Linked DNA regions of Homo sapiens: regions 2 and 3 are each linked to region 1. The links come from fine-mapping of genetic effects on gene expression. A gene starts in region 1. Each other region holds a variant in brackets. All regions are shown on one strand. Distances are between the middles of the regions.

Region 1 (4,348 bases):
TCATGGAACTTCACTCCTAATCTAACATTATTCACTTTCAATGGGCTTCCAGCCTCAAATAATAAGGCTTTTTAAGTCCCATCTCCTCTCAGAGTTTGCCCCAGTATTCTTTGCCCCAAACCGTAAACATGGAGTTTTGATTTCCATGTCTTTATTTAACCAATGACTTGCTTCTTGATGCATCACCACTGAATGATGTATGGGTCCTTCTAATCAGCGTCTACACTGAAGTCTTAGGTGATTGTCGGCTCCCTTATAAAGGAAGCATGTGTTTTAAATAATCTGTGCCTGTGTTCATTATTAAACTAGATTATTTGATAGTGACCTGAAATTCTTTAAAGGAAAACCTTGTAATATTGATCTTGTTGTTTCTGCAGTTTAATAAACAAGAAGGTTCAAAATGATGGTAGGTTCAGCCTGTTTTTCCCCACCAAGGATAACCACAAATACAAAACACAAAGATATTGGGACACAAACATCCTTAAAATGTTCCTTGTTTGAATATCATAGGGCTTTTCTAATTAATTGGCTAGTATAACTGGATGAAAATATTATCTATACTGTACCCCAACAAAAATACGTTGAATGCTAGTTTACTTTTATGTGTCTTGTAACTAGTTCATCCGTGTGCTTGCATCGCACTGCTCATAAGTTTTCAAATATGGGACGGAGTGCTCAACTCTCGAAGACATCATTTTCATTACCCGTTTCCCAAATAAAATATTAAGGTTGAGGCTCTGGTATTTCATTTCAAATAGTACTGGTCTGTTTTTCCAGCCATGAAAACGTTTACATTCTAAGTAAAAATCCTAGCGATGGTTAAGTCTTAAATACAAATCCCCAAACTCTTGCACTGCCTTCAGCTTTCAGCTTGAATGTATAACCAGTTCCCATAATTACTACAATATTACTATTATCTTAGTCTCATTGCCAAAAACCCAGCTGCAGGCTAACTATGCAAGAATGAGACACTGTTGAAATGACTCGGAAAAAAAAAAAAAAAGAAACTTTACCCTCACTGAATTTAGCTACAAAATTCTGCAATTAAATGAAACCAATTCACACACACACACACACACACACACACACACACACACACCCCTTCTTCTAAGAAAGAACAGGATGCCGCTACACAAGGAACCCAGAGAGAAATTCGGCAAACAGTTGCGCCTAAGCCACCGCGGCAGAGTCGGGGGCTGGGGGCGGGGAAGAGGAGAAAACTTGGGAAGCACAATGACTCCAGTGAGGACTTCAGTGAGGGCTCCAGGGCTCCCGCCAAGAAGCCCACGGGGCTCTACCAAACTTGAGGGTTTGCGTTCGGGGACACGGCGGGCTTGGGGCTCGGGCACCGGCAGGCCGCTCGGAGCCCACCCTTGGCTGCCCGCGAGGCCGCGCCCGGGGGACGGAGGTCGGGCCGTCGCGAGCCTCCCTCTCGCGTCCGGGCGAACCCTGCCGACGTCCCTGCGATTTCCCTCTTCCTCCTCCTGCCTCTCCCCTTTTGTTTTTCAGGCATTGGGTCCGCTCCGGCGGAGGCCGGCCCGTCCTCCCCGCGCCTCTGTCCGCCCTGCGCGCCCCCAGAGCCCCGGCCTCCTCGTCTTCCTCAGGCCCCTCGGCCTCTCCGCGCGCCCGGCCTTTTCGAAAGCCGCCCCCCCCTTCCTCCTCACGTCTCCCGGACTCCCCACGTCCCCCAGCCTTTCTGTCTTCCCCGAACCCCTTGGCCTCCCCGCGCGCCCCCAAAACCCCCGACCTCCTCGAGCTCCCGGCCTCCCCACGTCCCTCAGCCTCCCAGTCTTCCCCAAGCCTCCCGACCACCCAGCGCCCCGAACCCCCGCCTCCCAGCGCGCCCCCTGACCTCCTTAAGCCTCTCGGCCTCCGCGAGGGCCCCCAACCTCCTCACGGCCACCGGCCTCCCCTCCTCCCAGAACCCGGGCCGGGGGCGCGGGAGGGGCCGGTCTCCGCCGCATCCGCCCCGGGACTGGTTGGGCGGCCCCGCTCTGCCCCTCCGCCCTCAGGGCCGCGGCCCAGCCCACGACCGCTGCACAGAAGGAGCCCGCCCAGCCCCCGACCCGCGCCCCGCGCCCGGCGCCCCGCACTCACTCGGACCGCGGCTCGGCGCCGTGAAGCGAAGGCAGACGACGACGGGGCGGCGCTGGGCGACAGCAGCCGCGCTTCCTCCCACGCCTCACGCCGCGGGCTCACAGTGGTCCGGGACCGGCGGCGGCGGCGGCGGCGCGGGCTCGCGCCCTCGAGGCCGTGCTGCGTCGGCGCGGGCCCGCGCGCGTGCGCGGCAGCCGGCTGAGGCGCGCGTCCTCTCTCGGCAGCGCACGCCCGACCCGGTCTCAGTCCGGAGTTCCCGCCTCTCGGGGGGACTGGGCATGCGCGCCGCCCCCGCGCATGCCCAGCGCGCCGCTAGGCTCTGCTCGCGTAATTTGTCCTGTAGTGACCGCGCCGGGGTTTCGGGGTGGCCCGAGGCTGCGCGCGGGCGTGGCGGCCGGACGAGGAAAGCCCTGGTCTCGGGGGTGGCCGGGGTCGCCCCGCCGAGCGGACATCCTGGGGTCCCACCTGCCTCGCTCTCCGCCAGCGGGATTAGACGGACTTCGGGAAAGTCCTCCCCATCTCCTTCCCTGCCCCCAAATCCCGAAGGGGTCCCCTCTGGAGAACCTCCCTCCTGAGCGGCCCTGCGGCCCCGCCCCCAGAGTTGGACGCCCGCTGTCGGGCACCCGCTGCGGGCCCCGGGCCTTGCAGTGCACTCTCCAGGCACCACACCGACCCTAACGAGCGGTTCCTGGGCCCTTTTTGCAGACAAGGAAACTGAGGCTCAGAGATTCTTTTCATGGCATTATAGCTAAGTTGGGCTGGGCCATTATTTGATTTTGGAAGATGAAAAATCATGAAAGGGACTTAGAAGTCCACTGGAGGTAGACAGGTTACCTAAATGAACGCCAGCAGGGAACGAGCCCTGCAATCCCTCCCGAGGGCTACAGACCTGAGACGGGCTCCAGGAAAAGGAGGGAAGGCTCGCCCCGACACCGACCCGGGCTTCCGCGGTGTGAGCCAGTTTCAGCGAGGAGCTAGTTGGTTATGACCGGAACGTGCCGTAGGTGGGGTGGGGGAAATAGCAAAAGGCGAGGTTGGAGGGATTGAAAAATGCAGACGGCTGCGTGGGGCTTGCTTAGGTGCCTGGAGTTTATTCTTTAGGCAACAGGGAACCTTTGGAGGGCTTTAAGCAGGAAGTGATAACTGATTTGTGTTATTTAAAAAAAAAAAAAAGTCACTCTGGCAACCTTGTGGTCGGAAATGAAACCAGAAGAACCCTCAAGGCTGCAACTTTCATTTTTATGGTGTCATTTTGATGCTAACCACAAGCCAGGAAGCAGGACAGACAGGCACCGAGGCCTTTTGAAAGGTGAACACCCTGAAGCCCAGAGAGGTGACACACGTCATTGCATTAGGAGCTTTTATAAAAGTAAAAATGAAGTAAAATAAAAAGCTTTTGCTTATCAAGATTTTACCATATTTAAATGTTTGGGTTGTATTGTTCTTTAATGAGATGTATTAAGGTTGGTGTTTTTCTGGGTTTTGTTACTTTTTACTACATATGAAATTGTAAGGAATTGCCTCTCCATGCCAGCCTCAGGCCTTTGCGCGTGCTATTTGCTCTGCCTGGAACTTCTTGCTCCTCACTTCGTTCAATACCCTGCTTATATATCACCTCATTGATACAGCCGACCACTTCATATAATAGGAACCACCCACTGCCCTGCTATCCTCACACACAGTCCGCACTTAGTCTGCTCTGTTGTTCTCCAAAGCACCTATTGTTCACCATAGCCCAACACTGTGTTCTTGTTTATTTCTTGATTGTCCGCTCTCTCCACTAGAATCTTAGATTCATTAGAGCACGGGCTTTGTTTTGTTCACTAATAGGTCCTGGCACACAGTAAGTATTTGTCAAGTGAATGAACGAAGCTTTGGGTGATGTGAAGTGAGAGCTTATTATTAAAAGGATAAGAAAAGCATGGGAATTAAAAGAGGAGAGTGGAGGCACAAAGGGACTGCATTAAGGATAACTTTGGGGGAAGGGGCTGCACTTAGCATAGTAGACTAAAAATGGCCATCAATTCTTTGACACTTTTCCCAAGAAGAGGTGGAATTTATTCACCCCTTGAATGTGGATGGGATCTTGTAACTTGCTTTGACCAATGGGATGTGTCACAAGTGACATTGTACAAATTCCAAGCCTAGGCCTCAAGAGGCCATGCTGCTTTCATTTTCCCCCCTTAAGCCCAAGCTAGCCTCACGAGGAGGCCGTGTGGAAGAGAACTGAGGCACCCTGGCCAACAAGGTG
Region 2 (4,000 bases), 310 kb before region 1:
TCTGCTCTGTTAGAACTCTCTCAATGAGTAAACCAGAAAAGTTCAGAATAAATATTTCTGAACTCTGAAGAGCATAACTTAAAACATTGTACTGTGTTTATATGTACTATAATATCAAGGAACAATAATTTAAAAAATGAATTCTTACTGCAGATGTGATATATATAACTAATGCCCATACAGGGGAAGTCAAACCTAGAGGCATGCAGTTGGCGACTATGGCAGAAAGTATGCTGTGTTTTTTACCAGAGAGGACTATCCCATTAGATATAGACAGCTGTGGCTGGGTGTGAAATATAGCTCAAGAGAAAATTCAGAGGTAGGTAGTTCCTGACTTCTAGGATAGAATCTTCTCTGACAGGTAAGATAGACATGAATAGACAGAAAGGAAACCAAGCAAACACACGTAATACATTGATTCCAACTGGCAACTGAAGGGGAACTCACTGGGGAGGTCCTATTCCATGTAGCAGAACTCACAGATCCTATTCCATGGAATGCTGAGGTTCTGCCACTGCCTGAATGAAGAGGCAGCTTTGTGGGGCCCAAACATCCCAGATATGCTTAAGAAAAAATATTCCAAAACACAATGGACTTTGAGAAAAAGTACCTGAGAAGACGAGACTCCAGGTTGACAATTCACAGAACATTACTCAATGTAAATATCAAGGTCAGGAAAGATTTCGGGAAGACCCAGGAACTGTTCAAGCTTAAAGGAAACTCAAGAGATGTGATAACTAAATATAACTCATGATCCAGGACTTTTTTCTAGAAAGGGCATTCTGTGGACAACTGGTAAAATATGAATAGTCCATTGATTAGCTAACAGTATTGTATTATTGTTAATTTCCTGACATTGGTTAACTCAGCTATGGTTATTTAAGAGAACATCCTTATTTTTAGGAAATTCACATTGAACTATTTAAGAGTTAAAAAGCAGGATATCTGGTATTTACTTCCAAATGGTTCAGAAAAAATGGTATGTACAAATATGCAAAGCAAATGAGGTCAAATGTTAACAACTGGAGACTCTAGGTAAAGGGAACATGGGAATTCTTTGTACCATTCTTGTAACTTTAAAAAACTCTGAAACTATCCTTTCCTCTTCTGCCCATTCACTTGAGGGACCAGCTGGGAGCTGGTTCTGCTTAGGGGTTCTGTTGAAGGGCTCTAAACAGAGAGTGGAGGTGATTAGGTTTGACTCTACTGTAGCAGAAAGGACAAGTTTTTATTTTCATTTTTTATTTATTTATTTTTTTGAGATGGAGTCTCCCTCTGTCTCCCAGGCTGGAGTGCAGTGGCATGACCTCAGCTCACTGCAAGCTCTGCCTCCCGGGTTCATGCCATTCTCCTGCCTCAGCCTTCTGAGTAGCTGGGACTACAGGCGTCCGCCACCACGCCCGGCTAATTTTTTGTATTTTCAGTAGAGATGGGGTTTCACTGGGTTAGCCAGGATGGTCTCGATCACCTGACCTCATGATCTGCCCGCCTCGGCCTCCCAAAGTGCTGGGATTACAGGCGTGAGCCACCGCGCCAGGCCAACAGTTTCTATTTTTAAGAGACAGGGTCTTGATCTGCCGCCCAGGTCAGAGTGCAGCGACTATTCACAGGCACAATCATAGTGCATTACAGCCTCGAACTCCTGGCCTCAAGCAATCATCCGCCTCAGTTTCTGGAGTAGCTGGGACTATACATGCACGCCACCACGCCCAGTTAGAGCTATAGTCTAAGAAAACAAAAGACCCACCAGGCCCAACTTACGATGTGGTCATTTAATAGTTACATGATTTTGGTTATTTTAAAATATTGTATACCTCATTTGTCAATAATCTAACAAAAGAAACATGCACTTACTGTAGAAAAATTAAGATACTGCAAAAATAGATGAAAAAATTACAAATCACTCAACCTTACCATTTGGAAGTAATTATCATTAGTTATTATGGAGTAATTAAAATGTAAAAGTAATTATCATTAGTTAATACTGTGGTGTAAATGTATGTTTACAAACATGGAACCACAACATATGATTCTACAGCCTTCACATAACATTTATATAGGGCAAACTGACAAAACAATGTTTAAGGCTGCACAACGTTCCACTGCATGATTATCATCATAAAATAGACAATGGTAGTGAAGGGTGGGAGCTGTGGCACCAGGTGGCCTGGGTTCTAATGAGGATCCAGTCCTTACAAGCTGTGTGACCTGGGCCTCAATTTCTTCATTTCTAAAATGGAACAGTAATTGTAACCAACACATAGGATTGTTAGGAGGATGAAATGAGTTAATATTTGCAAAGTACTAAGTTGGTGCCACACAAGAGTTAAAATAAATAGTTCTTTTATTGTTGGATATTAGGGTCATTTTCAAAATCCCTCATAAATAGGCTGTAGATGAACACCTTTGTATACAAATCTTTGACTAAGTCCCTGATTATTTCCCTGGGACAGATTTCTTTTCTTCTTCTTTTAGAGATGGTTGGGG[G/C]TGGGGGGTCTCACTATGTTATCCAGGCTGGTCTTAAACTCCTGTGCTCAAGTGATCTTCCTGTCTCTGGAGCAGATTTCTAAGAAAGGAATTACTAAGTCAAAGAGTTTGAACATTTGAAAAATCTTGGTATAAGTTTCCAAACTGCTCAAGGCTGTCCTGATTTTCATCTATGTAGCAATATGTGATAGCATTTCTCTCACTGTACCCTAACACCACTGTATTATCATTTTAAAACTCTCAACCAATTCATAAAGAAAATACTGTATAATATATTGTTGTAATTTGCTCCTCTCCTCCTCCCTTTCCCCAAATAGTTGACCATTTTTGTTTCTTATCATGAGATGCTAAGTTCCATGAAGACAGAGGCTATGAAGCTGTCTGCCTCACCGCTGCGTCTCTGTTACCTGCTAGAACACCGGACAAACAGGTGGAGGAAATGAATGCCCTGTGCATTTTTCTAGTGAACTGATTGTCCATGCCTCTTTGGACAAGGCATATAACCTCTCTAGGCCCAGTTCCTCACCTGTAAAATAGGCAGAATAATACCTCAGTCAGTCATTATCAGAATGAAAGAAGTGCCTGGCAGCATTGTGCACATAGATGTGTAGTAAATATTTGCTGAAGGAATGCTTCAATTAATATCCAAGGCACAAGAGATATGTTATAGACGAGGAACTTGACTTAGAAAGATTTAGTTGCTTGGGGTAACACAGCTCTTAAACAGTGGAGGTGGGCTTCAATCAGTCAACAGATAATAAGAACCTTCTACAGGCAGGAAATATTTACTGTTTTACTTAAACAAAAAATGCAACTCATATTTTTGCCTATAGAATAAGGTATTGTTTCATGTGTTTACATGAATTAATCTATTTTTATTTCCATATACATTTCATGAAATGACTTTCTTTAATGCATAATTCCCTAATGTGGTATTTTCCTAAAGACAGGATTTTAATTTTAAAATGAGAAAGGCTTATCCATATAAAATCTACTTGTGTTCTGTGAATGAAATAAATACTTGAGCTTTTTCTTTTCATAGAGCATACACGGACCTCCTGAATGAAAGATGAGTGCCTATTGGGAACTGAAGAGCAATACAGCCAAAGACAGCCAATCAGAAAGAATAGATTCTCAGCCAGGTGCAGTGGCTAACACCTGTAATCCCAGCACTATGGGAGGCCGAGGTGGGTGGATCACCTGAGGTCAGGAGTTCAAGACCAGCCTGGCCAACATGGTGAAACCCCATCTCTACTAAAAATACAAAAATTAGCCGGGCATGGTGGCAGGCACCTGCAGTCCCAGCTAGTCGGGAGGCTGAAGCAGGAGAATCGCTTAAACCCGGGAGGCGGAGGTTGCAGTGTGCCAAGATTGCGCCATTTCACTCCAGCCTGGGGGACAAGAGTAAGACTTCGTCTCAAAACAAACAAAAACAAACAAGCCAAAAAAAAAAAACAGTTCGGCTTAGCTACAGTCTCTACTTTCATGTGGGTATGGCTCTAGAAAACTTCAA
Region 3 (4,348 bases), 43 kb after region 1:
GGCATGAGAGGAACAAAGTGGATGTGGAGAGAGGTGGGGCCTGACTCCTACTCACCCTGGCAAGGTGTATGGTGCTGAGTTACATGCCCTGAAGAGTAACTGTGGTCTGTGCAGGGCCTCAGGCTAACCCTCATTGTTAAAGGGAGCGAGCCCAGCCCTGTGGTATGGCTGTGGCCCTGGGGATGACCTTCTTTGCCCAACCCCCAACCGCATTCACAAGAAGCTGCTGCCGGGCCAGATGTGCAGGATCACACCTCTGAGCAAGGGTGGCACCCGACCATATGGTAGGTGTGTGGCAGAGCATTGGCAGGCGAAACCCAGGCCCACAAAAAGGCCGCTCTGAGCTTCTCCTCTCTCTAAACAGGAGGCAAGAAGGAGGGAAAGTGAGAGAGAGAGGAAGGCAGGAAGGAAGGGAAGAGAGAGAGAAACAGAGAAAGAGAAAGACAGAGAGAGATAGGGTGGCCTTCCTGCTGATCTGGGAGGCTCCAGTAAGAGTAATTTTAATATTTAAAATCGATGTTATTTGTATCTTAAGCCGGTAAAGTTGTTCACACCTATTTAAAATAAGCAAATGCCTCAAAGGGTAGCCTCCCGAGTAGCTGGGATTACAGTGCAGGAATTGAATGAAATTCTTTTTTTTGTTCTTGTGTTTTTGAGACGGAGTCTCTCTCTGTCACCCAGGCTGGATTGCAGTGGCGTGATCTTGGCTCACTGCAAGCTCTGCTTCCCGGGCTCACGCCATTCTCCTGCCTCAGCCTCCCAAGTAGCTGGGACTACAGTCGCCCACCACCACGCCGGGCTAATTTTTTGTATTTTTAGTAGAGACAGGGTTTCATTGTGTTAGCCAGGATGGTCTCAATCTCCTGACTTTGTGATCTGCTCGCCTCGGCCTCCCAAAGTGCTGGGATTACAGGCGTGAGCCACCGCGCCCGGCCTGAAATTCTTGAAATTATCCAATACAGTGCACGGCCCAAGGAGGGTGCCCAGAAGATGTTTGTCTCTTTTCTATTCCTTCCCTAGCCTGTACTCCCTGAGCTGAGCCCAGGGCCTGACACCCAGTTGGTGCTCATGCAATGTCTGTTGAATGAACGAGCAACCTGGGTACTGTTTCTGAACCATGAGGGAGAGAGGCCTGGGACCCTCTGACCCTGGGTTCAGCCCCCTGGTTGCCTACCTCGAGCCAGCCCTGAGCCAGGCTGGGTTTTCTTGCCCCTGCCAGGCCCGGTTGCAGGCCTGGAGTAGGGGCTTTCTGCTTGCTGCAGGCACTGGGAGGGGCCAGGGTGTCTCTCCAAACCTCAAGTTAGACAGCCTTGGTTGGAAGGGTTTTTGTTTTCTTTTGTTTTTTGTTTTGTTCTGAGACTGCGTCTTGCTCTGTCTCCCAGGCTGGAGTGCAGTGGCTCAATCTCAGCTCACTGCAACCTCCTCCTCCCAGGTTCAAGCAATTCTCTTGCCTCAGCCTCCCGGTAGCTGGGATTACAGGCGCACACCACCATGCCCGCTAATTTTTGTATTTTTAGTAGAGACTGGGTTTCACCATGTTGGCCAAGCTGGTCTCCAACTCTTGACCTCGTGATCCACCCGCCTCAGCCTCCCAAAGTGCTGGGATTACAGGGGTGAGCCACCATGCCTGGCTGGAAAGATTTTTTTTATGTCCAGCTCTCTCACTTGTGAAGCCATATAAAGGCCTCCCCTGTGTCTCAGTGTGAGGGAGCAGGGACTCCACATGCTAAAATATACAGTGATGACACCACATGTGGTCCAAAGAAAACAACATATAGAAGTCCAACTAGTTCTCAAATCAGCACCATGTCATCAAGCTTGAACTA[T/C]CTTGTGGTTAAGGTTGGTTTGGGTGGCCTCCAAGGGAAGTTCAAGTTGCTTTGGCTTAAGAGATTTGTCCATGCCTGTGTGTGTGGTTTGTGTGTGTGTATCGTGTGTGTGTGTGTGTTGCTATTTGTGGTCCTAAGTGAATGACAAGGCTCTGATTCAGCAGCCCTTACCAGACAGTGACGTTGATGATAATTTCCATTTTGTACAGTGCAGCTTTTCTGTCTCCAAATCTTATTCATATGGATGAACTCATTTGAACATTGCAATACCTAGGAGATGAATGGTTGTAGTTTTATAGATGGAGAAACAGCAGCTTACACAGGTAACTCAGCATCACAGAGCTGGGTCATGGTGGCCAGGACGTGAACCCGGGCTCCATGAGTGATGCCTCTGTTCTGTCTTCAACATTGTACAGAGACATCTTGGCAGGCACTAGGCTAAGACGTATGTGGGATAGCTGGGCAAGTGAGATGGACCTGTCCTAGGAAATTTACATTTGATTGTGAGTGAAGGACAGGTGAATCTAATGATCTGGAGTCACAATGTACATTAACTGCGATGATGACATAATTCACCATGTGTGATAAGAATACAGAGCACCAGATAAATCTGGCAGGGGAATCCAGGAAGGCTTACTGGGGGAGGTGTCCTGTGAACTGGTCTTTCTGCCAATTAGGATTTCAGCCAGCTACATATGCCAGCAACTATCCATAGCGGCTTGCCCATTAGAGACTTACTGTTCTCACAAAGCAAGAAGCCTGGAGGGAGGCAGTCCAGGGCCGCAGCAGCCACTCGAGAAGGCTGTGAAGGATGCGGCTCCTTCCAGCTTCCCACTCTACCCTCTGTAGAGCGTGGTGCTTGTCCTCATGCTGCGACATGGCAGCTCTATTTCTAGGCTTTGGGCTTACAGCCCAGGAGGGAAGGAGGAAAGGGTAAGGGTTGAAAAGCAAAAAGTCAGCCAGGCTCACACTGGCTGAGTTGGTGGGCTTTTGAGCTAGGCCCCAAGGCCACTCCTTACGGCAAAAGAGATTTTTGACCTGAGCATGGCAGAACAAAGTCAGAGCTTAGTAAGGATATTGGGAGGGCACTGGGCAGTGTCTGCCTCATCTTTTTAGCTGGGTAGGAACCCAGCAGGCAACAGGTGCGGGGAGAGCCCACAGCGAGGCAGTGGGTGGGGAAGTGCAGGCTCCATGGAAACAGGAGGTGGTTCACTCTGGTCAGAGGGATGTAACATTTCTGTGTATGGTTGTGTGTGCCCATGTGCCCACCTGCACCTATACATGTGCACACACAACACGTAGTCACGTATGCACACACGTGTCTATGTGTGCATACACATAGGTGTATGAGGGTGTGCAGGCATGCATGTGTGTGTTGCCATGAGGAGGTGGTGATTATAATGGGGGATAAATAATGAGCTTGATCGTGAAGGCCTTAAGAAGCTCGGGTTGTGGCCGGGCACAGTGGCTCACGCCTGTAATCCCGGCACTTTGGGAGGCCGAGGCAGGTGGATTACCTGAGGTCAGGAGTTCGTGACCAGCCTGACCAACATGGAGAAACCCCGTCTCTACTAAAAATACAAAATTAGCTGGGCGTGGTGGTGCATGCCTGTAATCCCAGGTACTCACGAGACTGAAGCAGGAGAATCACCTGAACTCGGGAGGCGGAGGTTATGGTGAGCCAAGATCGTGCCACTGCACTCCAGCCTGGGCAACAAGAGCAAAACTCTGTCTCAAAAAACAATAACAACAACAACAGAGAAAACTCAGATTGTAATCCCAGAACTTTGGGAAGCCAAGGTGGGTAGATTGCTTGAGTTCAGGAGTTTGAGACCAGCCTGGGCACCATAATGAAACCTCATCTCTACCAAAATACAAAAAAAGAAAAATAGCCTGGCATAGTAGCCTGTGCCTGTGGTCCCAGATACTGAGGAGGCTGAGGCAGGAGGATCGCTTGAGCCTAGGAGGCGGAGGTTGTAGTGAGCTGAGATCGCGCCACTGTATTCCAGCTTGGGCAACAGAGTGAGATCTTGTCTCAAAGAAAAAGAAGAAGCAGCTCAGGCTGATTCCATGTTGAGAGCCCCTGACCACACCGAGGAGTGGCTTGGTGAGATTCCAGCGGCAGTGTGGCGGAAATTGAGGGGCGGGGAGCTGGCAGCAAAGAGATCAGTGAGGGGGCTGTTAGCAGGGGTGGCTCAGAGCCACAAACCAAGAGCTGACATTTTCAGAAATGCAGCCCCAGATAGGAGGACTTCAGAACCTTTTCTGCAGGCGCACTAGGAGGTGGCAAAACCTGGTGGCCATGCCTACGGGCTTGGAGTCAGGCTGCCTAGGTCCAACCCAGCTCTACCAATTTATATGTGGCCAGTCATGACACTCTCTGGGCCTCATTCTCCTATGTGTAACTCAGAGAGAATCATTTTGCCAACACCCAGGAGATGCCAATGAGATTACTTGAGCAGAATGAGTGACAAAGTGCCGAGTACATGTTACCTATTACCATGGTATTGCAGATGCAGAAG

Which allele goes with the higher level. Positions count from the first base shown, and alleles are read on the strand shown. Sizes are in standard deviations (SD) of each study's normalised expression. Not every link is listed here.
With allele C in place of T in region 3, the expression in fibroblasts of the gene that starts at base 2,255 in region 1 is higher (moderate effect, 0.63 SD a copy in GTEx).

What was found. PIP is the estimated chance that this variant, and not a neighbour inherited with it, causes the effect.
Region 2: its variant is fine-mapped to the expression of PTK2 in whole blood (TOPMed, PIP 0.95).
Region 3: its variant is fine-mapped to the expression of PTK2 in fibroblasts (GTEx, PIP above 0.99).

What each region holds. Positions count from the first base shown.
Region 1 is chr8:140,999,028-141,003,375 of GRCh38, forward strand. It overlaps PTK2 (protein tyrosine kinase 2), which reads right to left and starts at 2,255. Exons shown (of 36, transcript NM_001352702.2): 1 at 2,098-2,255. RefSeq lists silencers at 1,920-2,249, 2,270-2,689.
Region 2 is chr8:140,688,712-140,692,711 of GRCh38, forward strand. The region is part of intron 29 of PTK2 (protein tyrosine kinase 2); the gene reads right to left. Among named protein-coding and RNA genes, the nearest start is that of MIR151A, 42 kb to the right of the region's middle. The variant G/C (reference allele first, on the strand shown) is at 2,488.
Region 3 is chr8:141,041,588-141,045,935 of GRCh38, forward strand. No RefSeq gene overlaps it. Among named protein-coding and RNA genes, the nearest start is that of PTK2, 42 kb to the left of the region's middle. RefSeq lists an enhancer at 1-652. The variant T/C (reference allele first, on the strand shown) is at 1,827.